Linked DNA regions of Homo sapiens. The protein of the gene in region 3 purifies or fractionates together with the protein of the main gene of each other region. This does not show direct contact. Each region holds a gene or a part of one and is shown on either strand. Other genes may lie near its edges. The genes, in order: SDR9C7, ADD2, DPPA4, ADD1, SNX9, L3MBTL3 and APOD.

The links.
Region 1: the proteins of DPPA4 (region 3) and SDR9C7 purify together in Homo sapiens (affinity purification with mass spectrometry; 3 studies listed by BioGRID and IntAct, with this or other methods). This does not show direct contact.
Region 2: the proteins of DPPA4 (region 3) and ADD2 purify together in Homo sapiens (affinity purification with mass spectrometry; 3 studies listed by BioGRID and IntAct, with this or other methods). This does not show direct contact.
Region 4: the proteins of DPPA4 (region 3) and ADD1 purify together in Homo sapiens (affinity purification with mass spectrometry; 3 studies listed by BioGRID and IntAct, with this or other methods). This does not show direct contact.
Region 5: the proteins of DPPA4 (region 3) and SNX9 purify together in Homo sapiens (affinity purification with mass spectrometry; 3 studies listed by BioGRID and IntAct, with this or other methods). This does not show direct contact.
Region 6: the proteins of DPPA4 (region 3) and L3MBTL3 purify together in Homo sapiens (affinity purification with mass spectrometry; 3 studies listed by BioGRID and IntAct, with this or other methods). This does not show direct contact.
Region 7: the proteins of DPPA4 (region 3) and APOD purify together in Homo sapiens (affinity purification with mass spectrometry; 3 studies listed by BioGRID and IntAct, with this or other methods). This does not show direct contact.

What each region holds. Positions count from the first base shown.
Region 1 is NC_000012.12:56,931,609-56,935,642, reverse strand, and holds the start of SDR9C7 (short-chain dehydrogenase/reductase family 9C member 7), read left to right. Parts: upstream 1-1,234; 5' UTR 1,235-1,381; coding exon 1,382-1,682; intron 1,683-4,034. UniProt on the Homo sapiens protein: Plays a crucial role in the formation of the epidermal permeability barrier.
Region 2 is NC_000002.12:70,677,701-70,681,200, reverse strand, and holds part of ADD2 (beta-adducin), read left to right. Parts: intron 1-498; exon of another isoform or gene 499-1,728; intron 1,729-2,239; coding exon 2,240-2,497; intron 2,498-3,018; exon of another isoform or gene 3,019-3,184; intron 3,185-3,323; coding exon 3,324-3,443; intron 3,444-3,500. UniProt on the Homo sapiens protein: Membrane-cytoskeleton-associated protein that promotes the assembly of the spectrin-actin network. Binds to the erythrocyte membrane receptor SLC2A1/GLUT1 and may therefore provide a link between the spectrin cytoskeleton to the plasma membrane.
Region 3 is NC_000003.12:109,334,747-109,339,034, forward strand, and holds the start of DPPA4 (developmental pluripotency-associated protein 4), read right to left. Parts: upstream 2,801-4,288; 5' UTR 2,772-2,800; coding exon 2,718-2,771; intron 1,962-2,717; exon of another isoform or gene 1,575-1,961; intron 1-1,574. UniProt on the Homo sapiens protein: May be involved in the maintenance of active epigenetic status of target genes. May inhibit differentiation of embryonic cells into a primitive ectoderm lineage.
Region 4 is NC_000004.12:2,906,344-2,909,843, reverse strand, and holds part of ADD1 (alpha-adducin), read right to left. Parts: intron 2,102-3,500; coding exon 2,000-2,101; intron 1,330-1,999; coding exon 1,240-1,329; intron 506-1,239; coding exon 413-505; intron 1-412. UniProt on the Homo sapiens protein: Membrane-cytoskeleton-associated protein that promotes the assembly of the spectrin-actin network. Binds to calmodulin.
Region 5 is NC_000006.12:157,938,246-157,941,745, forward strand, and holds part of SNX9 (sorting nexin-9), read left to right. Parts: intron 1-387; coding exon 388-502; intron 503-2,637; coding exon 2,638-2,729; intron 2,730-3,500. UniProt on the Homo sapiens protein: Involved in endocytosis and intracellular vesicle trafficking, both during interphase and at the end of mitosis. Required for efficient progress through mitosis and cytokinesis. Required for normal formation of the cleavage furrow at the end of mitosis.
Region 6 is NC_000006.12:130,049,581-130,053,080, reverse strand, and holds part of L3MBTL3 (lethal(3)malignant brain tumor-like protein 3), read right to left. Parts: intron 3,431-3,500; coding exon of another isoform or gene 3,326-3,430; coding exon 3,251-3,325; intron 1,833-3,250; coding exon 1,673-1,832; intron 223-1,672; coding exon 90-222; intron 1-89. UniProt on the Homo sapiens protein: Is a negative regulator of Notch target genes expression, required for RBPJ-mediated transcriptional repression. It recruits KDM1A to Notch-responsive elements and promotes KDM1A-mediated H3K4me demethylation.
Region 7 is NC_000003.12:195,568,205-195,571,072, forward strand, and holds the end of APOD (apolipoprotein D precursor), read right to left. Parts: intron 932-2,868; coding exon 696-931; 3' UTR 501-695; downstream 1-500. UniProt on the Homo sapiens protein: APOD occurs in the macromolecular complex with lecithin-cholesterol acyltransferase. It is probably involved in the transport and binding of bilin. Appears to be able to transport a variety of ligands in a number of different contexts.

The DNA.
Region 1 (4,034 bases), on a different chromosome or scaffold from region 3:
CCCCTACTTTGTTAAGGAACGGCCAAACCCTGCGGGGCTTTCCCAGGGTGACACCTGCTTTATGTGATTCCACGCTGGTCAGACTTGGCAAATGGTGGATCACAGAGATACATCCTTTGTCCCTTCACACTAGAGAACTTTGTGGTCCCATTTCTGTGTCAGACTCGCTAAGCCATGAAGGTGTGAGCTAGGACCAGGCTCATCCCAAGGAATGGTGACCCTAGATGTTGATCCAAAGAACCACAGAGGCTCCAGCATCATTCCCTGCATCTTATGCAATTCTGGGTGTGGCCCCTCACTACTCACACCTCTGGTTTCCTTATTTCCTTTCCTTTACCACCTTACCTCTTAGCTTTCTGTAAATTATTTGCTAAATTGCCTAGAATCTCTGTTTCTCCTCCAAGTCCCGACCCTGAGAATTTTCTATGTCTCTGGCCCCAGTTCTCTGCTCCTCCTATATCTCATCCCCTCTTACAGTCAAGGCCTCTGCCCAGACAATTCCCTCAGCTGCCCAGTGAACTCATGATCCCTCCTCATCATCTTGCCCAGGGCTGCTTACTGGTGACCTGAGTATGACCCCCACAGGGTGTCAGGCCTGAGTCCCCCAGGTCTTTCTGCTTTCTGGTGGCTAAGCTTCACATGCCAGCCTCCCCTATAGGAGGGCCCTGCTGCCTCTAGCCTCAGGACAATGGAGGTACATCCACCCTAGGAGAAATCCATTGCTTTTCATCCTCTCTCATGATGGAGACTTACCTAAGAATTCCAGAGAGCTGATGACCTGCGACTTGTTTCTCTTGGGGTTTGGAAGGTACAGAACCAATGTTGTTTGTTTTACATTAATAAATTTGTCTTGAGTATTTTCCCTGAAAATAAACTTATTTACATACCTGCACTCACGACAAATGATTTTGATCCCTGGAGACCAAAATCCCCAGGCTGGGTTGGGGGCAGGGTGGGGACAGGATTTCTAGGGGAGCTGTCTGGGGTGAGTCCTCATCTTTCATTTGCCTGCCTTACACCGCCTGGGTGAGCCACCACTCATCACCAACATTACAAGTGGATTATTTCCAATTCTTGGCAGCTTTACCCATCAGGGCAGGGGGAGAGAGGGAGGCAGCTACCAGGGCTGTCAGAGGTGACAAGGCTTCAGGTTGGACTTGAATTTCTTGCATCTGGGCTAATTGCTGTGGTGATGCATCCACCTATAAAAATTACAGCGTGGCTCACCCAGGGACCTAGATTTGTTGCAAGCTGTGGGAGGAAGGAGAGTTCTTCTTCCAGGTGGTTTCCTGCAGACTGCCTGCTAGGGCTCAGAGGACCAGCTTCTTCCCTGCTGTCTCCTGAGCCCAGTCCCTCTTGGCCATCACATTCCCCTTGCCCTATGGCGGCCCTCACAGACCTCTCATTTATGTATCGCTGGTTCAAGAACTGCAATCTGGTTGGCAACCTCTCAGAGAAGTACGTCTTCATCACAGGCTGTGACTCTGGCTTCGGGAACCTGCTGGCCAAACAGCTGGTTGATCGGGGCATGCAGGTGCTGGCTGCTTGCTTCACTGAGGAGGGATCCCAGAAACTTCAGCGGGATACCTCCTATCGGCTGCAGACCACCCTACTGGATGTCACCAAGAGCGAAAGCATCAAGGCGGCGGCCCAGTGGGTGAGGGACAAAGTGGGCGAACAAGGTGGGGCGAATTACATTCTTTGGCTTTCTTGGTTTCTCCTTCTTCCTCTTCCTCTCTCCCGAAGCATCTGACAGTATCAGAGACCCTGATGTCCAGATTGGGTGGGAGGGGTGATGTAGGGAAAGGCCCCTGCCTCAATCTGATTGGAAGCCACTGCATGGTTTGGCCTGTTCACATGAAGGGGTGATTTCCCAAGGAAGTTTTCTGTCCTGGAAACTCAGAGAAACGGGAAAGAGGTCTCAATAGGAAGCGAGGGGGGAAGATGTGTTCTGTGTGTCCAAACCTCTAAAAATGGACGTGCCTGGCTGGGCGTGGTGGCTCACGCCTATGAGCCCAGCACTTTGGAAGGCCGAAGTGGGAGGATCATGAGGTCAAGAGATCGAGACCATCCCGGCCAACATGGTGAAACCCCATCTCTACTAAAAAGTATAAAAATTACCTGGGTGTGGTGGCACGTGCCTGTAGTCCCAGCTACTCAGGAGGCTGAGGCAGGAGAATCACTTGAACCCGGGAGGCGGAGGTTGCAGTGAGCCAAGATTGCGCCACTGCACTCCAGCCTCGTGACAGAGCAAGAATCCCTCTCAAAAAGAAAAAAAAGAAAAAAAAAGGATGTGCCTCTCTGATGTTTCAGCAGTCCTAACCATCAGCTCCTGGGGAAATACAAACACATTTCTTGTTGGGATCAGGATGGGGGAGGGGGAATGAGACAGGAGGCTGGATCCCATGAGTGGGTGCAGTTTGTCTCCTTGACTATGTCAGGCAGGGGAGAAAGAGATCTGGTCTCTTCTTGACATCATGGTGGGTGTTGATTTGACTTCAGGGCAAGTATGTATGTCACAGTGGCTGCTCCTATTGGGAAAGGAAGCTGTGGACTGGGGCTGGCCCAGGACTGTGTGGGGACCTGCCTCATGCACTTCCAGCACACAGGGTGTGGGCCCAGGAACAGGAGGAACAGGATGGCTGAGTTGCAGAAGCAGCAGACTAGAGGAAGTCCTCCCTCCTAAAGGAACTAGTCTGGAGCCCATGCGCAGGTCAGGGCAACAGAGCCCTGGAGCCAGGGGGATCTAGACAGTAACTCCCTGCTTGATTCTTCTCCTTAGCACTTATCACTAGTCAATGTACAATAGATTTTACTTATTTATTGTCTGTTTCCTCTGCTAGAATAAAGCTTCCTGGGGACAAGGATTTTTGTCCCTTTTATTTACTGTACATCCTTAGTACCTAGAATAATGTCTGGCACCTAGTAAGGTACTGAATAAATAGATTTGAGTGAGCTAATTAATTAATAATTCAGCAAGAGTGAGCCTCTGTCTTCAGCAGGCTGTCTCAGCCAGTTCCCTACATTCAGCCTTGAGCCACTTGCCTTAATACCTCACTTAGCATGTGAGTTTCCTGTTGCTATTGTAACAAATAACACAACTGTGGGGTCTGAAGACAATACAAACATATTATCTTGTAGTTGTGGAGGAGTAATGTCTAAAATAGGCCTCACTGATCTAAAATCAAAGTCAGCAGAGCTGTGTTCCTTCTAGAGGCTGTAGAGGAGAATCCGTCTCATCGACTTTTCCAGCTTCCAGAGGCAGCTGGCATCCCCTGGCTCCTGGCCTGCTACCTCCATCTTCAAGGCCCGCAAGGTTGGGCCCAGTCTTTTTCACACTTTTCTCAAGCTCTCTGATTCTCCGGTTTCTGCCTCTTTCCACTTAGGACTTGTGATTATATTGGGCTCACCAGGTTAATCCAGGATAATTTCCCGTGTTAGCTTCCTCCCTAACTTTAAGGACAATTAATTAGCAACCTCCATTCCACCTGCAACCTTAATTCCCCTTTCCCATGTAATCCAGCAGATTCACAGGTTCCAGAGATAATGAGGATGGGGACATCTTTGGGGGACCATTATTTTGCCTAAGCCACTTGGCAATATCCTGGTCTAAGAAACACTGGGAACTGGGGTGGGTAGGGGGATGGGAGAGGAAGTTCTTTCATGCTTTCTCATTGCTCCTGAATGGAGAAAGGCAGGGAGACTGGGTAGGGGCATGGCTTGGGTGGGGACCCCAGCCCTAGAGGGAGGGGTGGACTAGGATTTATGTTTGTGTTGAGACCTGCCCTCAGGAGACAGTGGGATGCGCCTGCAGAGTATCTTGGGGCTGCTGAGGCTGGGGCTGTGGTGCGAATCACCAGGCAGTAGGACTTGGGGAATCCTTGCATGAAGGAGCTGGAAGGGGTCCTTGAGGAGTGTTTAGAGGGGTTTACAGTAGAACCCCAATATGTAAAACAAATGAAAGGAGAGCTTCTCCTGCATTTTCCTCCCCCTAGAAGGCTTGCAAAATACAGCCTGGAAACAACTGTTTTAGT
Region 2 (3,500 bases), on a different chromosome or scaffold from region 3:
GAAAGCCTGAAAAGATACCTCCAAAGGCCAATTTTAGGTTCTATAATAGTGATATTATTTACAGGAGTAATTGGGGAAGTTGCAAATCGTGTGACCTCTGGAATAATAGCTGGTAATTATTTAACTATGCCTACATTTTAGTAAAATTCAGGCCCCTTTCCTCTTCCTAACTTGGTGGTCTTTCATCAGTTTTACAAGGATAGTTTAGTTTTTGGGAAGGGCTATCGTCATTTACACTATAAACTAAATTTCTCCTGAAGTTAGTTTGGCTCACATCCAGGAATGAGCAAAGCCAGCCAGCTTGTGAGGCTAGAAGCAAGATAGAGTACTGTCATAATTTTGCAAAGGTGATTTCAGTTTAAGGTGGACAATTATGCAAATATATACAAAAATCAGTAGTTTTTGTATCTTAACTACTTTGAAAATATAATAATGGGAGAAAATAATCCTATTTGCAAATGGATCACAATCATAAAACACTAAAAAGCATAATCCGTGTTTTTAAAACCATAAAACTTTATTAATAGACATCAGAGAAAACCTGAAGTCAGTGAAGAGCTATAATTTATTCTTGGTTAGAAAGCTTCAATAGGGTAAAGAGGTTACTTCCCCAAAATTAATCAATAAAGTCAATGGATTTCTTTCAAAAATGGGGGAAGGTATGAGGACTTGACAAAATATCCTTCCATGTGAAATTCAGAATGGCTAGGGCAATGTTATAAAAAGAAAAGTAATTAGGAATACTAATTCCACCTCATGACAAAGTGTGATAAAACTTTGGCAACTAAATGGCGTGGCACTAGCAGAATGGATGTGCAAAACAATGCAACAGCTTAGAGAATCCAGAAATAGATCCAAAATATATGAGAATTTAACACAGGAAAAGCAGGCACTTTATAAATCAGTGAGGGAAAGATAGACTACTTGCCATCTGGGAAGGAAAGCTAAGGCAGATGCTACTTCATTTATTTCAACAAGATAAATTCCTGGTTTGTCAAAATGGTAAACATAAAAAGTGAACTCATAGGGGTATTAAAAAACATAGACTTATGTTTTTGATGCCCTTGTGTTAGGGAAGACTTATCAAGCACGGCACAAAAGGCTGCAATCTTGACAAATATTAATAGATATGATATTAAACAATTCAAAACTTGCATTTCTATAAGCCACTCCCCCACCATAAACAAGGTAAAAGACAAAGTATGGAGGGAAATATTTTCACCATCTATGATAGTGAAAAAATTAATATTCTTAATTTACAAAGAGCTTACAAATCAATGTGAAAAACAGAAACATCAATAGAAAAATGGGCTGAGAACATAAACAATTTACAAAGGAAAATAGTTAAGTAGCCATTATATGTAATTGGAAATATCCATTTTACTAGTATCAAACATATATGGACACACATGTATATGCATAGAGATATGACTGGAAAGGTTTTTAGTGATTGTCTCTGGGGTGAGAGTTTGCATAAAATTCCGTTTTTTCCTTATTTTTTTTAATTTTGCTTAATTTTTCTACATGGATCTGTATTTCCTTTATAATCAGAAAAATAATGTCATTTTAATTTAAAAATAAAAGAAGACAAAGAGAGCTGAATATTGCTCCAACAGCTGCCAAGATTCCAGAATGTTTGTTCTCTCCAAGAAGCAGTCAGCTCCAGCTTTGAGGGGATGTGGCCTTGCTTAGGAGACAGGAATGTTCTTGAGTCTGATTTCAGGGTTCCTAGAAGGAAATTGTTAAGAAGTTTCACAGTCAAGGAAGGGAGGGGTGACTGTTAAATCAGCTGGGAAGCTTTTAAAGATCCTGTAGCCCAGGCCACACTGTGATCTGATTAAATGGGCAACTCTGCATCAGGGCCCAGGCATCAGTGTTTGTGTGAAGCTCCCCCCGTGATTCTAGTGTACAGCCAGGGCTGGGAGCCACTGGACCAGAGGAAATCTGTGGCTCCATTTGGATGAGGAGCTCTGTCTATCTGGTCCACAAAGGTCTAGGGATTTTCTCAGCCCTGATCAGAGGACTTGTTGGGGTAGAGAAAGAGAGGGGATGGGGGACCAGGAGGAGGGAACAGTTCTGAAATATACCAGAAGAGTGGAAAGCCTAGATTGTTTAATGGAGATTTGGGTTTACATGAAGAGTCCTTTAAGCAGACGGAAGGAAAGGTGTGTGTGCATGTATGTGCAGGTACAGGCCTTTTTTCTCACCCCATAAGTGGTTCTATTTTTGTCCTTTATAGGGCTACAGAACAGGTTACACGTATCGCCACCCCTTTGTTCAAGAGAAAACCAAACACAAAAGTGAGGTGGAGATTCCAGCCACGGTCACAGCCTTCGTGTTTGAGGAGGACGGTGCCCCGGTGCCCGCCCTGCGACAGCATGCCCAGAAGCAGCAGAAGGAGAAGACCCGCTGGCTCAATACGCCCAACACCTACCTGCGGGTCAATGTGGCCGATGAGGTCCAGAGGAGCATGGGCAGCCCCCGACCCAAGACCACGGTAAGGGGGAGCCCAGGACAGACCCGGGCAGAGAGGGGCAGGCTGCATTAGCAGGGTGAAGCATTTTTAAAACGGGAACAGAACAAACCTCTCCTGCCCCAGGTTAGTAGCATCCTCTTTGGGCTTCCTATTAGGCCTCTGGGAGCAGCTGCTCAGGCCCACTGAGCCCCTGACCACTTCTTCCTTGCACCTCTGCCTGAGTTTTTGGGTCTAAGGAGCAGATTTCTCCAGAGGGCAGTTGGACCAGGCACATGACCCAGAACCAGTTGGTTTGTGCTTCTTTCTCCCACATCCACAGGGGGCTCTTGGGAAATTCAAGGGAGGAGCATTTAACATTGGGACTTCAGATCTGATGCAAGCCCAGGAGGTGGGCTGTACAGCCACTTCTATGAAGTTATATTTTCTCTCCCTGTCCCCACCCACAGGCTCTCAATTTTTTATTAACATAAAAGTAGCCAACAGCCAAATAGAATAGCTCTTCATAAAACAATATGAAGCTCTCCAAACTCAAATCAAGTTACCTAATACTGAAGCCCAAGTGGTTGCCTGTGTATCAAAGCTGGTTCCCAAGGTTCTGACCCCAACTCTTGGATGTTCTTTATAGCCGACCTTTGGCCTGAGGGCCTTCATTGGTAACTGGGTCATCTGTTGCCATTCTCTGCTCCTGGAGACAGACATCAAAGAGGCCTAAGAAGAGAGAGTGTCTATGAGTAGGCTTGCTGACCTTCCATGCAGGATGTTGGGCCCAGATCTCGTGGGTGGACCACTGGGGAGGACTCATGGGCCTGTTCCCTCACCTCAGCCCCATGACCTTGTGTTTGTGCAGTGGATGAAGGCTGACGAGGTGGAGAAATCCAGCAGTGGCATGCCGATTCGCATCGAAAACCCAAACCAATTTGTGCCTCTCTATACTGACCCCCAGGAAGTACTGGAGATGAGGAACAAGGTAAGTGGGGTCTGTTTATCCCACTCTTTCTTCTCCCACACTGGGGGGTCTCAGGTC
Region 3 (4,288 bases):
ACACTGCTCTCCCTGACCAAGCTCCAGCCACATAATTCCTTTCCTTTCCAAAGTTGTTACATTCCTCAGCCCCAACCTCCACCCTACTTCTATTTACACTTTAAAATCTTACACCTTAAAAATCTTACTCTTCTTTTAAAAGTCTCACCTCAAGTGCTATTTAACCTGGTCCTTCCAGACCAATCTACTAAATACTACCTCATTTCTACCACTTGTTAATTGCAATTACATTGGTTTGTGTGATTTCTTTTTCATCATAGGCACTCAATAAATATTGGTTCATTGAATTAAAGGAAGCAAAGTGGGAGTGGGGAAAAGTTGTTTAATCCAGAGACAGTAACATATATTGAGCCTCTGTCTCATACTAGGCATTGGCTTTGATATGCTCCTCACTTTCATTTTTTTAAAAAATATTTATTTATTAAAGAAAAGGTCTTGCCCTGTCACACAGGCTGGAGTGCAGTGACAGGACCATAGCTCACTCCAAGCTCTACCTCCCGGGTTCAAGTGATCTTTTGCCTCAGCCTCCTGAGCAGGTGGGACTACAGGATAATTTTTTGTAGAGGTGAGGTCTCCCTATGTCTCCCCCCACTGATCTCAATCTTCTAGCCTCAAGCAATCTTCCCGCCTTGGCTCCCCAAAGAGTTGGGATTAAAGGCGCGAGCCACTGCGCCCAAGGGTTCCCTATTTTCTTTTTCTCTGAGAGGAGTCTCGCTCTGTCACCCCGGCTGTAGTGCAGTGGTCCAATCTCGGCTCACTGCAACTTCCATCTCCCCGGTTTAAGCAATTCTCTGCCTCAGCCTCCCCACTAGCTGGAATTACAGGCGCCTGCCACCACACCCGGCTGAATTTTTCTATTTTTAGTAGAGATGGGGGTTTCACCATGTTGGCCAGGCTGGTCTCAAACTCCTGGCCTCAAGTGATCCGCCCACCTCAGCCTCCCAAAGTGCTGGGATTACAGGCGTGTGCCACTGTGCCTGGCCTTGGCCTTCCTTTTTTCATTCATTTAATTCTCATAGCAATCTGGCAACAATTACTTCTCAGACACAGAAGCTGAGAATCAGAGGTAACATAAAGACACAGATTAGGGGTACATTAGATATAAATTAAAATTTAAATATAAAGGCTAGGCTCCGTGGCTCACGCCTGTAATCCCGGCACTTTGGGAGGCCGAGGTGGGCTGACCGATTGAGGTCAGGAGTTCGAGACCAGCCTGGCTAACATATCGAAACTCAGTCACTACCAAAAATACAAAAACTACCTGGGCGTGGTGGTGCGTGCCTGCAATCCCAGCTAATCGAGAGGCTGAGTCAGGAGAATCGCTTGAACCCGGGAAGCAGAGGCTGCAGTGAGCCGAGATCGGCTACTGCACACCACTCTGGGCGACAGAGTCAAACTCATTAAAAAAAAAAAATTAATATAATAAAATTTCTCCTAAATCTAAATCCTTTTCTTCACTTTCAGGGTGGATTACTGGACAAATTAACATTTGTATGGCATTTTTACATCTCTATAGCAGTTCTACATTTTGATTTGAAATTTATATTTGCATAAACCTTACAAAAAGTACTCACTTTGGACCTCACAAAAGACTTAAAACCGAGACAGTTAAAAATGACCCAGTTCAAGTCAAGAGGACCTGAGAGCGCTCGGATATGGCCGTTCAGTGCCTGTGCAACGTCTTAAATCCTCTCTTCCTTCAGTTTCTGTCTGCATTGTTCCCAATGTCTGGCTTCTGATTACTCCTAGGTCCTAAGGACGCTGGGAAAAGGGGACGAATTCATTCTCAGCACCCTCGGTTTAGGATCTGTGTCCGTCTAAAGGAAATTAAGGGGTTTCATTCTTTTCCAAACTCAGCTCAATTACCTCTTCCTAAAATCTTTCCTTTAACACCCTTTTCTCCTGTTACCATTTCCCTCTAGCCCCCATATTCAGTTAGTTCTTTCTGACAGGACTAAGCACCTCTTCAAAACAGAAAACCCGGGCCGGGAGCAGCGGCGGGCGCCTGCAGTCCCAGTAGCACTTTGGTAAGCCGAGGTGGGAGGATCGTTTGAGCCTGGGCGGTTACAGTGAATAGTGATGGTGCCACTGCACTCCAGCCAGGGAGACAAAAGTGAAACCCTGTTCCAAAACACAAACCTGAAAACCTAATTTTTTAACTTTTTCTTTTGAGGTGGAGTTTCGCTCTGGTTGCCCAAGCTGGGGGTGCAATGGGGCGATCTCGGCTCACCGCAACCCCCGACTCCCGGGTTCAAGCGATTCTCCTGCCTCAGCCTCCCGAGTAGCTGGGATTACAGGTGTGCGCCACCACACCTGGCTAATTTTGTACTTTTAGTAGAGACGGGGTTTCTCCATTTTGGTCAGGCTGGTCTCGAACTCCCGACCTCAGGTGATCCGCCCGCCTCGGCTGCCCAAAGTGCTGGGATTACAGGCGTGAGCCACCGCGCCCGGCCTCTTTTTTTTTTTTCCCCATCTTTTGACACACTCAACCTCCTCAACTAAACCTAGAAAACCTCATTTCTTACTTGTCTGCTCACTCCAATATACCAGGCTGCAATCATATTCTTGGGCCTTACTCTTAAAATAAAAAAAAAAAAAGTCAAGAGGAGAAAATTCGAAGGCACATTCTTTTCTCCTTAAAGGAAAAATCAGGAGTGCCCAGGGAAGACAGAAACACAAAGACAGACAGAAAACAAATCCACTAAAACTGTACTGACCTCCTTGCCTTTTGCCTTCTCCATACTTGTAGAAGAAGCGGAGCCTCGCAACATGCTTCCAAAATGGCCCCTGCCCCAAGATTGCTATTTGCAAAGTCTCCTCCCACTTCCTGCCGCCCGAAGACCCTTTTTCTCTCCACCTCACCTCTTCTTTTCTTCTCCCCTTCTGTTCCCTCCCCCACAATTTGTAAATGCTAAAATTGCATTCTTTCTTATTCATGGGGTGACTTTTGTCTGGGTTGAATTACTAATACTATTCCTGGCCCTTTTCTGTTCACTTTAAATGTAATTATCCAAAGTATGGTTCCGGAGACATTGGGAGATTGAGCACTCCTTCAGAACGATTCTACGGGGAAAAAAAACAAAAAACAAAAAACAAAAAAACAGTGGCCAGAGACTTGAGCAGGATGTGTGAAGGGATTTAATAATGGAACTTGTGGCAACAGTAGACTTCAGAGACCAGACTGGCGGCTTGAAGAAAGCTATTTTCTCGTACCAAATACATTCCATTTCCTAAGTAAGTTACTCAACCAACTAAAACTCCAGGTTTCTCTGTACTAATACCGAGCATCTTTTCATCTGCCAACGAACTAATAATAGTAGCTTTTAAAGTCTATAGAGTATTTGTTATTTATTTTGTAGAGGGCAAGTGGGGGGGTCTGGCTATTTTGACCTGGCTGGTCTCGAACTCCTGCCCTCAAGTAATTCTCCAGCCTTGTCCTCCCAAAGTGTTGGGATTACAGGCGTGAGCCACCACTCCCCGCCCGAGTATTTTTTTATATCTCAAATTGTGAGTTTTAAATTCAGTCATTATTGTTCCCCATTTTATATATGACTAAAGTTGGTATAAATTTTTATTGGTAACTTTTTCAATAGCACAGTAAGTGAACCCCTAACCTACTGACTCCCAAAGAAGTTCAAGTTTTTCTCCTTAAAATAATTTGAAAAATCTTTCCTCAGATCAGTGCTCCCTGTCAGATTGTCAAGAGATGTGAAGTGAAGGAAGCAGTGGCTGTGCGACTGAAACCCTCCCTTGTCAGGGTCCAAAGTCTCTTTTGTTCTTTGGTTTACTTTGTTGTTTTTTTTTCCTACATCTCATTGCTTGTCCTAAAATGATAAATAAGAGACTGTCTTTATCCAAATGGTGTTAGTAATCTGCTCACAGGCTAGAAATCCACGGACAGAAAAAGTAAGTAAACGGAGCCCAGGAATAGAGAAGGAAGTGCAGGTTGTGGACTGGGCAACCCCCAAGGCGGCAAAGAGGAAACCAGGTGAGTTGAGGTCATCTGGGAGATATTAGGGCTTTGATTTAACAATTCTTTACCACAGCCTTTGGTAACCACCAGTAGGACTTTCTAATTAAGGTTTGTGTATAAAGTGTATAACTGAATCATCTTTCTTTTGTCAGTGTAATTGAACGTAACATTCAGAATAACTGGAGTTCTGGGCTGGGCATGGTGGCTCACGCCTGTAATCTCAGCACTTTGGGGGGCTGAGGTGGGCAGGTCACTTGAGTTCAGGAGTTTTGAGACCAGCCTGGCCAACAATGGCAGAACCCCTTCTCTACTAAA
Region 4 (3,500 bases), on a different chromosome or scaffold from region 3:
TGAACCAGCGAGGGTGGAAGGGCACTCGGGAGTGGCCGCTGCCAACAGCAACAGACTGCCCAGAAGAGGCTGTCTGCAGTCAGAGTCATGGAAAAGGCAAATTCTGAAACCCAAAACACGCACTGACCAAAGTCCCGTGCGGAACTGCAGAAATGCACCACGTTGCTCAGACTGGCCATTTCTCAGTAACAACTTCGAATGCTGGAAATTGTTATCACACCTCATAGCAAATGTTTTAATTAAAGAATCAAGTAGGTAGAACAGAACCTTCTGTACAATCTCACAAACAGGTTAAAGATCCATTTGAAGCTACTTCAGTAACTAAGACAATGCCTGAAGAGAGGAGACGGGGAGGGGGGAGGGGAGGGGAGCAAGGCGCATAGACAGGTAGTGAGGACAGGGCAGTGAGTACCTTTCTAAAAGAGAGAGATTTAGCGGGACTAAAGGTCTGCTCTGTAAGCTCGAGCCCTTCGATAGTTTCCGTACAGTCAGAGAGAGGTGCATCCTGAAACAGTAAACTGAGTCACCAGAGCACACCAGGCCCAGCCTGTGAAATATCAGCTGAGAGCACAGGATGGAGCTGGCTAAGAGCATGCAGCAGGGACAGCTGTCAACAGTAAGTGTGGCAGTGATGATGGCAGGACGTGCAGACACTGAACACGAAACCAGGACCACGGCTGGACAAATCCAACAATCGTCTACCCCTGCAGAGTCAGGTGTTAAAGCATTAGGTGGCATATTAGTTTTCAGAGATAACTACTTACACAATTATCTTCAATGTGCCACAAGGTAGAGTCATTTTGTAGAAATGTGTGTAAATGTGCACCACACTTACAGGCACCCACCCCTCTGCAACCCAAGCAGCACTTTGTTGCAGACAGCAATATGTACCAGAACAAGAGTCCCTAAACCCACCCTCTCCTAGCGCCTTACACAGAACGCTGCTGAACCCGGGCCGAATCTGAGCCCCAAAGCTGGTGGTGTATGTGCCACCCTCACATATGCATGCATTACAAGGGGCATGACCAGAGGGGTGGACACAGCCCTCAGCATGCTCGCTCCTTCTAGAACTCAACGAAAAGTGCCTGAACCGTTTCTCATCATGAAGGTTTTAACAAAGGTAACTGGTTGCCTAGAATACTTACCTCATAAAGTCACTCTCTCAATTTCAGAATAACTTTGGAGCAGGCGGTCACACAGCCACCACCCACTAAAGTCAGAGACACTCTGGGCTCTCACCTGGACGAGGCTCCTGTCCATCACTACACCACACAAAACCTGGGACTGAGGGCCAGCCGTCTTAATGTCCTGTAAATTCTGCTCTCGGATCTGAGGGTGGGAAGGAGAGGCACACATCAACAGTCCTGAGCAGCCATGCTGCCTGGGAGCCCTGCTGCTTGTGCACTTGGGCCCCAGCCACATGGAAGCTACATTTCAGCTCTCCCACTGCCCCACGCAGGCAGGATGGCCCCATGTGTTCTGAGTGACCGCCATGCCTGCTTAGTGGGGCGTGGGTCTGCAGGGATGGAGACTATTCCCAGCTCCCCACATCTTCCAGATGCTTGGGCAGGACACCTATCTCTCACTGTCATTAACTTGGGGGAAACACTCGCTGCATGTCCATCGTCTAGTGATGTGAGCACTGGCAGGGCTCCTGCTCTGATACACCAAATGCCACTCACAAGTCTTTGAACGAACCCTGAAAGGGACAGCAGTCTGCTCTTGCTAAGAACAGGTTTTGCAGCTTCCAATTCTGACCGGTGAGCAAACATCGTGAGCAAACATCAGTTCAAGAATCAATAGGGCCCAAAAAATGTCTGCTGCTCATACTTCACACTGGTGGTAGAACAGCAGCGGTGTGAAGAGATGGCTTCACTGCAACAGTGGCAACAACAGCAGATGCCCTCTGCTAGAAGCAAGCACCCGCTCCCCCCAAAGCAGCTGGCATCCCTTCCAATCCCACACCCAAGCCCCCGCTGAGTGCCGACGCAGGACGCACCTTGTTCCTCATCTCCTGGACCTCTTTTGGGTTAGTGTTCAATGGAACAAACAGGTTAGGGACAGCAGAGGTGGAAGTTCTATGTCCATCCTCTTTAGTCCACTGTAATATCAAGAACAGTTGAAAAGTCAGAATTATGACAACAATAAGTGACATAGCATCCAATCTATTCAGTTTATCTCACATCTGGTCATGCACTGAACATCACAGAGAGGACTGAACCAATGACCACATCTAATCTGGGTCACTCAGCAGAGTCGCCATGGGAGCAGGATGCAGCCACATAAAGACCAGTTAATGCTGGAAGTCAAAGTCATGACTGATGGAAAACCACCATCTGGAAAGCCCAGCTGAATCTGGGTCATAAGGTAGGCTGACGACAGAGCTGAGCCCCATAACCCTGGGACCAGCAGGGGAGGCCCCTCAGAGACCATTGGTTCACTGCTCTGAAAATCATCCAACACCAAAGCCAACTGGAAGCATGAGATGACAGGGTCATGAAAAGCAATGTGATGCTGCTACCCAGGGTTAGGGAGGAGCCTGCACCGTGAGGCAAGAGTGGGCATCACCAAAGTTTTGCATTAAAGTAAATGACAGCATCAGAATGCACTGTCTGCGTAACTTTCAACCCAAGAACATTACTGTATGGACACTTACACGGTAGCTACCTGGAAGAAGAGTTTGGTGATGTCGAATATTTTATATAACTTAATATTTTTGAGTGCTACAAAAATATCCCAAACAAACTTGAAGCGCTTCATGAGTCCTTAATATTTAAAGGCTGTTTTAGTATCAGTGCATCTCGTCAGCATGCTGAGCCTTCCACCCATAATTTTTTTTTGGATCTCCAATCAAATCTGAGATTTTTAATCAAATTCTAAGGCATGAGTAGGCACTGAACATTAAAACAAGCCCATCTTCGAGAGCAAATGTTATGCCTTTCAGAATACTTTCGAGAGGCAATAAGATAGCCATAAACCATACGACTTTAAAAAAAGCAACAAAACCAGCAAATGCTGAGCCACTGCGAGGAGAGTGTGGAATGGGCATGGAGCTCTGGGTACTCACTGATGGTTATCTTCTCAGATAAAAACAACTCCAGCGTTTTATTAAAAATAATTTTTAGTCAAAGCATTTCAAACAGCAACCTCAGAAACTTGAACACATTTGAAAAAGTAACAGCAATCATTATAAATGAAAAGATACCAACCTGGGAGCACTGCATGGACTCTGTCACTCCAGAACAGTAAGAAACAAATATAAATGCGGAGCAAGGCCTCCCCTTGGATGTACACATTGACTACTAGGCCTAAAGTGACTTAGTTGTTTTGCAAGCTAATGGTAAATAAAGCTCGCGCTGCTGCCTAAACGCTTTGGAAAACTTCCTCATGGCAATTCAGCACTGTGCTTCACATCAGCCGCAGAAAGGTGTTTTGGGGTTTTTTTTTTTTGTTTTATAACGCCCACTTCCTTTAACAAGTGAAACAAGTAAAAAATAAAC
Region 5 (3,500 bases), on a different chromosome or scaffold from region 3:
GAGAGAGAGTGCCTGTGTGCACATGCTGCCCTGTACCTAGCCACATGACTTCCAAAACCTGCTAATGCCTGATTTCCATTACGTGCTACTCCTCAAATGGCAGCGGCTTCTGAATATTACAGAGATGGTGTGCTGTTTGCTTTTCTCTTTTGTTGTAGCATAAAACTGTTCATTTTAGCTTAGTGACATTTGTCAAGAATAGCAACCTTTTTGCTTCCAAGGGACTTGAAGGAAGTTAAATTTAGATGCTTTCCTCTCTTCTTATTTTGTGGAGGTATTTCCTGTTCAGTAGCAAATCAGTTATAGAATATATTAGCATTGTTATATTTTAAACTAATGACTAATCATTTCAGCTTTATTCATACTGTTGCATTTTATATTTCACAGGGAGCAATAGAAAAAGTGAAAGAAAGTGACAAACTAGTTGCAACAAGTAAAATCACCCTACAAGACAAACAGAACATGGTGAAGAGAGTCAGCATCATGTCTTACGCGTTGCAAGGTAAGATGAAAGGGTCCTTATGAGGTGCTGGTGGAAGTTTTTTTTTCCCCAGCAAAGTTTCCCTTGATAGAGAGAAATCCAGATGTGAGCAGCAGTTAAGTAAGTGAGACCTTTTAAGCCCCTCGTTTGCAGGATCCCGGTGCTGATGAAAATCTGTAATATTTATTTAATTTTTCACCTGTCCACCTTATCTGGCTATAGATGACAGCTTGATTAAAACTGTACATTTTATTATTTCTGAGAGACATTTAAGATTCCTTTTGTAATCTGTGGTATCATAATGCTCTATTAAATGCCAGAGCCCAGCTTTTAGCAGTCTGTAACCTGCGTGCCTTGGGATCATGGAATGTGAAGGGGTTTGGGTGTGTCATTTTAGGCACAATTTTTTTGTGTCAAGAAAAAAAAAAGATGAATTTCTATAGGTTTGAGTGTTTTTGAGCAGATGAGGGCAGCAAGTGGATTTTTCCTGTTGGCGGATGGGTGGATGGCACTTGGATGGGCAGAGAATGGAGAGCGTGTTCTGTTAGGAACAAAAGCCACAAAATTGTGGTGCTAGATTGTGTCATGGGCATGAAAGAGTAAAACATACTTAGAGGTTATTGGGAAATAAATTTTGATTGTGAAGGAACTTGAAAGCTCTAGACTTGATGCAGGCATTAAGAAGCCATTAAAAGGGAGTAAAAAAAAATCAATCCTCAAGGGAGAAGGATTTGCTGGTTATGGAGGGGAGATTGGAAGATGCAGACACTGTCCAAGAGCCCAGCCAGAAGACCATCTCACTGTTGTAGTCTGAGCTTTGAGGGCCTAAAGATGTGGTACTGGGGAGAAGAGAATGAAGCACATTTGCAGGCTTTTCCAAGGAACAGCTTTCAAGACTGGGGCATTCATGGGAGAAAGAGAAGGATGAGGGAGGTGTCCAGAGCCAGGCCACTACGGCAAAAACGAGGAACCCTGATTGAAGTTTCGGGTTTTGAAGGGTTTGAAATGGGGAGTTTGGTTTTGAACTTGTGTTTGAGGTTATCCAAATTGAGAAATACAAAGCTTTGTATAACTTCAAGTAACTGAATGTAAAATGTAGAACAGTTTGCATGTCATGGGAATCTGTGCAGCCGCTGGCTTTCTCAGCCTGGAGGGTTTGGGAGAAGGCGGCATAGGAGGCATCCGAGGGAGGCAATGAGGTCCTCTGATGACGAAGACTCCTCTAGAGTTGGGGGCAGGGGCAGGGGGGACAGAGAAAGAAGGAATCCATGTATTCAGCAAACATGAAGAAAGTTGTCCCTCAGCATCCAGTCCTCCTGCCCTGTGAGAGGTTGAGTTCTGACAGCGTCGCTGGTGCTCAGGGGCAGCAAGGCTTCCCGTACTGAAGAAGGGTCTCCCGCTGTCCCACACGCTGCCCAGCCTTTCACCAGAAACCTGCTGAAGCAATTGCTGTGCAGGAGGGAGCGGGGCAGGGACCCCAGCTGCCTGCTAGGTCCAGTGCAGACACACCAGAGGCTTTGAACTGCAGTCATCTGTAACAAATATGACCAAGTATTTTCTATTTGATCGATTCTGTTAGAGTAATAGGCTGCATTTGGGTGATTTATCTGTATTGGATTTTATAGTTTTGAATATGCAAGACAGTGAAAGTCATTCATTTACTGGAAAGTAATGTTTGTCATTAGCTTGTTTTGTTTTGTTTGTTTTGTTTGAGACAGTCTCGCTCTGTCACCCAGGCTGGAGTACAGTGGTGCAATCCCGGCTCACTGCAACCTCCATCTCCTGAGTTCAAGCAATTCTCCTGCCTCGGCCTCCCAAGTAGCTGGGATTACAGGCACCTGTTGCCATGCCCGGCTAATTTTTGTATTCTTAGTAGAGATGGGGTTTTGCCATGCTGGCCAGGCTGGTCTTGAACTCCTGACCTCAGGTGATCCACCCACCTCACCTCCCAGAGTGCTGGGATTACAGGTGTGAGCCACTGCGCCCAGCTCAACTTGTTTTTCTAACCTCTTAGTAAAGTGATTTACCAAGAACTGACAACAGCAGCCAACCAGATTAGGTCAGGTTGATGATTAATTGTAACTGAGCAGAGAAACCAGGTGTTGTCATTTGAAAACTTGAGGGAAAACTGATTGATGTTCTGATTTGGGTTGTAGCTGAGATGAATCACTTTCACAGTAACCGGATCTATGATTACAACAGTGTCATCCGCCTGTACCTGGAGCAGCAAGTGCAATTTTACGAAACGGTGAGTGGGCGTCCACGTGCCTTTCGCATGTGCTTGAGGAGAGGGTTCCTGGTAAACCACTTTGACCATGTAAAGTTAATCTGTTTGTATTCTTTAATCCTAAGTAATAAACCAAAGGAGCCTAAATTTTGGACAGGATTTTTTTAATCTCCTAATTCCATCTGCCCTTTGCTTTTTGGATAACACTGGGTTAAAAAAGATTTTCTTCTGAAGCAGGGGTCTTGGATGCTAGTTGCAAGGCCCCAAGAAGTTCCTTATTGTGCAGCTCCTTCCCCCCGTCACAGCCTCTCTGTGCCTCTGTGCACCAGGAACGGTGCTGAATGAGATGAGGTCACCCAGCCGTCCCTGGGACTCCGTTGGCAGCTGGAACAGGAGCCTGGCACCACACAGGAAACCAAAGGCAGCCTTTGCTTTTTGTGAATGAGGTTTTCACAGTGCGCCATGGAAATCGCAGAGAGAAAACCAAAAAAGCGAGATGTGGGATGGTTTTATTCACAAAACAATAACGAAAACTTAAATTTTTCTTACCTCTGCTTAGTAATTTTGTTGTTTACCAGAGTCTATAGAAAACAAAAATCTAGTAGCATGTCTCCCTCAGACACCTGCAGGTAAGGTCTGTAATGTAGAATCCAGCCTCCGCTGGCGGCCTTGCTGCCTACCCAGCTCCCCTCTGGCCATGGGATCTAAGCCATGTTCATGGGGAGTGGTGAGCAAGCCCTCTGCTCAGCCATACTGGTGGCATCTGCGAGCTGGACACTGCTGAAAACGCCT
Region 6 (3,500 bases), on a different chromosome or scaffold from region 3:
TCAGTGGGCTCCAGAGCAGTGCTTGTGACTGTGATGCTACCCACTAAAGATGCATCCCTGTGCTCCTGGTGTCAGGCAGAGGCACTCACCATTTCATCATCTCTCTCTTCTCCATCCTCCTTGGTGTCAGCTTTCAGAGATAATTTTGGTTTTTTCTTCCGACTACACTTAGGATCTTCTTCCTCATTGTCTTCTTCTACGTCCCTTTCTTCCTTCTGATCTCTGTTGTGTTTATAAACCCAAAATAGTGACAAGAGACAATACCTATCAAACATCTACTTGTTGATTATCAATGCAACAATCATTAAAAAAAAATCACCCTGCAAAGGAAAAATCTTTAACTACCAGGAGAAATCTGTAGGCATGAGAATATCATATATCAGGAACACTGAAAACAACTATTACATATGACATCTGTCTGTCAGGGCAGAAAATGAAAATTACCTTATATATTAATTTCAAAAGGGGGCCAGCAATATGTATGAAATAGGTTCTAACAAGTTATTTGTCTGTCACATCTACCATCTATACTAATAAAAGAATTGATTATTTAGAGATATTTGTTTTCAGGGTCAAAGAAGGATCTAGCAGTTATTAAGAATGACAAATCCAATTGAAAAAAGGCTAAGTGTAACATTGTGAAACATCAGTTATCCAAGAAAAACAAGACAGTTCCAGTTGGGCGCAGTGGCTCACACCTTTAATCCCAGCATTTCGGGAGGCTGAGGCAGGCGGATCATGAGGTCAGGATATTGAGACCATCCTGGCTAACATGGTGAAACCCCGTCTCTACTAAAATAGAAAAAACTAGCTGGGTGTGGTGGCGTGCGCCTGTAGTCCCAGCTACTCGGGAGGCTGAGGCAGGTGAATTGCTTGAACCTGGGAATGTGGAGGTTGCAGTGAGCCAAGATCACGCCACTGCACTCCAGCCTGGCGACAGAACAAGACTTCATCTCAAAAAAAAAAAAAGAAAAAGAAAACATTTCCCAAGCCTGTGCTGATTAAAATACATGGGAAATGCCACTAAAATATAAATGTCCAGTCATTTCTTTGTAGTATACAATGATATGCAAGAAAAACACCTTCTTGGTGATAAGCTGAACTTTGTCAGACTGTCCCCAAATGGGAAGGTCACACACCACTACCAGTTACAGCTGATGCCTCTGTCTCATAATCCTCAGTCCACACCTTGAGATCATCAGTGACCCAACTCACTACACTCTTCCCTATGGCCATTTCCATTCAGCTGATTACGAATCAGTGGAAGCTTTATGCCGTAGGTGGAGTTTTAACCGAGTTACCTAAGAATTCCCAAAATATAAACAAAACTATGTTTCTATAAATGTCAGTGTCATCGAAATGTGTATATAGCCCAGAAAAAACTAAATACTCTTAGCTGAAGACAATCAAATGAATGGAAATGGAAGACTGAAGGCAGAGGCAGAGGCTGTTTTGCAGGCAGAATATTAGTAATACAACTCAGACCAGGCATGACAGACGTCACCAGGTCCCATATAGGGGTTAGGGCCCATGTGGCCCTAAAGGAAAAGTCTCTGGGAAAAAGGTATCAATAGGTGATCAATGTCCGAGAGCATAAAACTTCTATATTCTCAGGCACCATGACTTTGGAATCTAAAACTCAATTTATAGATGGAATGGGGCAAAAACCTACTTATCTTTGATGTGCCGAGCACAATTCTGGCTGCAATAGTTTCCTCCAGAAAGACACTCATCTACGTTGCCATACTGACAACAGTTCTCACAGAACTGAAGCCCTTCTACTTTCACTGGATCCTTCAACCTGAAAGGCATCCCAGTCTTCTCTGAAAAGACTAGAAGATGAAAAGAAGAAATGCAAATTACAACCATGACAGAAGACATTCTAAAATACAATCAAACTTTTTCTTCTAATAATTTTGTTAGCAACACAATAAAGAATAGTGTTTGCTGAATGAATGAATGATCAAATGATAGTGTTTTCGGGGGGTATGGGCTCTGTAAAAATCACTCAAGTCATTCAAATAATGAAAAAATATTCTGCAGAAAGGATAAAAGCTTGCCCAAGGCTTTTTCTACAGAGTTCAAAGTAAAATGAAGAAAATTTCACTAGTCACTAAATTCAGAAGACGCATATATCGATCTATAGAAACTTCTTCTATATTTGTATCTTTCAGAAAATTTCAGAGGATCTTCTTTTATTTCACATTTATAATCTTTTGATGAATGATTTTGTTTTACTTAATTGGCTAAATCAACATCTCTTCTATTACGCTTTCAATGTAGTACATTTCCTGACTCATAGCTATCCAAATTGTGTAGAAACTCGCATTTCCTTTTGCCTGAATTGTTAGGCTAATCATTCATTCAGCCAGCAGTTATTAGGCACCAATTTATTCTAGACATTAATAATGACAGTAGAGACCTTGCCCAAGAGAGCTCACAGTCTAGAAGAAAAGAGAGGCAAGAAAACCAGTATTTATAATAAAATGTGATACATGCAATACTAGAGGCATAAACAAGGTCCAGAAGTAGTACAGAAGAAGTGATTCATTCAGCCTGGGGTAAGGTCAGAGAAGGATTTTCTGATAGAAAGCCTCAACAGGGTTTTGAAGGCCAAAGAGGAATTTACCAACTGGACAAAGAGAGAAATGGCATTTGAGCCAGAAAAAGCAGTATGAGTAAAGGCAAGAAAGCATGAAACCACATGATGTGTTGGGAAAATTACACGTAATTCTGTGCTGCTGGCACTGCCAGAACACAACATACAAAGAAGGAAACAGAGACTGAGGAGACAAGGCGAGCAGGTAGGTGCAGGCACCCAGATCTTTGTATGTTCTGCTAAAAAGGCAATGAGAAATCAGTGAAGTGTCAGATAAGCAATCTACGTTAAGTTCCTCTGGCTTCAAGGTGCAGGACCAATTGGAAGGGGGTAAAATTAGAAGTAGAGTGACATCTGCAATAGTTCAGATGAGAGTTGAGAAGAGCCTACATTAAGGCCATGGCAAAGATGATAGATAGAAAAGGCCAGATCTGAGACATATTAGGAAATAAAAATCAAGAGGTATAAGTAACAGGATATGGGGATGGGAAGAACAAATTCAGGATGACTCCTGTGTTTCTTGCTTGTCCACTGGGTGGATGGTGCTATTGTCAACTGAAATATGGGTTAGGGAAGAAAGAGCAGGTTTGTGGGGAGGGGAGAAAGAAATAGAAAATGAATTGCATTTCAGACATGTGGAGTTTGAGGTACCTGTGGGACATCCAGGTGGAGATGTCCAGTAGGCAGGTGGAAATACGGGCCTGGAGCTCGGGGGAGAGGTCGGGGCTGGAGATGTAGATTTAGGAGTCATCAGCATATAGGTGTTAGTTACAACCATCGGAGTAGATGAGAAAAAAAGTGGCAGGCTTTTGGCTAAATCACCTGTGTAGGCTACAACATGGATTTACTTAATTTCCAACTAACCTTGTGCTACTACAGATCTGGCATTAGGACAAAGAAG
Region 7 (2,868 bases), about 86 Mb from region 3:
CCAGAACGGGGGCATCTGGATTCAGGTCACCCAGAATACGCCTTTGCCATCAGCTTCCCCCACTCCAGAAACAGGATTGTTACCTTTAAATGAGGACAATTCAGTGCTTGGTTTTTTTCAACATAACTGCTTAAGGATTTTTTTTTCTGTTTTTCTTTTTAGAGGCAGGGTCTTGCTCTGTTGCCCAGGCTGGAGTGCAGTGGTGCCATCATAGCTCACTGTACCCTCGAATTCTTGGGCTCAAGTCATCCTCCTGCCACCACCTCCTGAGTAGCTAGCACGGGTGTGCACCACCATACCCAGCTAATTTTAAAAACATTTTTGTAGAGATGAGGTCTTGCTATGTTGCCCAGACTGGTCTTGAACTCCCGGCCTCAGGTGATCCTCCTGCCTCAGCCTCCCAAAGTGCTGGGATTACAGGCATGAGGCACCACAACCAGCCTGTTTAAGGATTTCTAAGCATAAGCTTATAATGAAAAACCCACAATAATTAATCCAACTTGGAATCTACTGCGAGCACAGCAGGTCAGCAACAAGTTTATTTTGCAGCTAGCAAGGTAACAGGGTAGGGCATGGTTACATGTTCAGGTCAACTTCCTTTGTCGTGGTTGATTGGTTTGTCTTTATGGGGGGGGGGTAGGGGAAAGCGAAGCAGAAGTAACATGGAGTGGGTGCAGCCTCCCTGTAGAACCTGGTTACGAGAGCTTGGGGCAGTTCACCTGGTCTGTGACCGTCATTTTCTTGACATCAATGTTATTAGAAGTCAGGATATTTTTTAGAGAGTCCACTGTTTCTGGAGGGAGATTAGGGTTTCTTGCCAAGATCCAAGCAAAATCCACGTGAAAAAGTTGGATGATGCAGGTACAGGAATACACGAGGGCATAGTTCTCATAGTCGGTGGCCAGGATCCAGTACGGTGCCGATGGCATAACTGAGAACCAGAGAGAGGCAGCATTATTGGAGGGAGAGGGCAAGAGAAATCTCAGGACAACACAAGAAGGCTGGCCCAGACAACCACCCACCAAGCCCCCCACCTCTGATTTTGTTTATCAATCCAGAAACAGAAAGACCCTGGAAAGAAGTTTGGACGAAAGCCTAGACTGAGTGTTTCTGACTTACCCTTTCTAGCACTGTTGGTGCCCTGCCTGCCTGCCTGCCTCACTCACCCAGAGAGAGAGACAGAGAGAGAGAGAGAGACAGCGTTATAGTCATCACCCATCTGCACATTTCAGCTGCTCTGTGTATTCCCAGGTGGACTGAGAACTCTTAAGCCCAGAGTGATTTTGCAAAAATCTGTCTCCCACCTCTGCCAGCAGCGGCATCATGGCCCACCTGCACTCACCCAGGCTGGCACATTCTGCCTTCCTCTCGTGGTCCAGTTCCGAAGAATAAATTTACCCAGATACAATACAGAAAACTTCACATGTCTCTCCTTATTTGAAAACTTTGACAGTCTCCTATTGTTTATGGAAGAAACTTCAAGCCTTTTAATGTGGCATTCAAGGCCCTTCCTAACCTCATGCCCCTCTTCATGTACACTCCCAGGCTCTAGGCCTCTTTATTCAGGCCTTCTTCTTCTTCGTTTTTTTTTTTTTTTTTTTTTTTTTTTTTTGAGATGGAGTTTCACTCTTGTCGCCCAGGCTGGAGTGCAATGGCGCGATCTCAGCTCACTGCAACCTCCACCTCCTGGGTTCAAGCGATTCTCCTGCCTCAGCATCCTGAGTAGCTGGGATTACAGGCACACGCCACCATGCCCAGCTAATTTTTTGTATCTTTAGTAGAGACAGGGTTTCACCATGTCGGCCAGGCTGGTCTTGAACTCCTGACTTCGTGATATGCCTGTATTCAGGCCTTCTTCTATGTTCCAGTTCCCTTCACTTGGAAATCCTTTTCCATAATCTCCCATAATCCTACAAGGCCTAACGCAAACATCTAATCCTTGTTATGCATGTAATAGTTAGCTTTCACTCCAATCCCCGTCCCTGATCCCTATGGGAAAAATACTCAGTTGAGAGTTTGGAGACCTAGGTTTAGGTCCCAACTCTACTTCTAATGAGTTCAGTGATGGCCTGCGTCACTCAGCCCACCTGCACTTTAGCTCCCTTCTTGATAAAAATAACAAGAGAAACTGTGTATAAAGCCCTTTACAGTTTACAGAGCGTGTGTATCTGGTTTATTTTCACGACACTGGGCAGTTATTTCTGGCTTGTACATGTGAAGTTAGTTGTCCATATTCATAGTGTGAGAAGAACTGTTTTCTCCTCCCAGCATTCCTTTCTTGGTCTATAAAATTAGAACTTCCTCTCCTCCCCGCTCTAGGCACTTGACTGGTGTGGGGTGGAGGAGTGGCAGAGATGAGAAGTAGGAAGTGCAGGGAGTAACTTTTGTAGCTGATGACTTCAGTGTCTACCCTGCAGGTGGGAAAGGGGCTTTCAAGCACTCTTCGTGTTAGAAAGCCTCACAGTTCTGGGTTGAACTCTCTAGTGTATCTTCGTCGGAAATAAAACTAATATTTGGTGCTTTCTCTATTGCCTGTGTCCCTTCCTCAGTTAGCTCAGAACCCAGAGGCAAATGCCTGTCATTAGGTATCTCACAGGATCCCCAACAATGTGACTGGAAAGTGGCAGAAGCAGGATTCAAACTTGCCGTCACTCTTGTCATCTCTTGCTTCCTAGTTTCTGCGCCGTGCAGGTTGTTCTGCTAATATCTGCTAATGTTTCGGGCCCCAGTTTCCTTTGGGAAACAAGACTGGGTTGTGTCTTCTGCAGCCCACACCCGGTGTGCACCTACTTGTGTTTCACCTGTTGAAACGCTAGCTAGTTATAGTAAATTGCGGGGTCACGTGTCAGTATCCACACTGGGATGTGA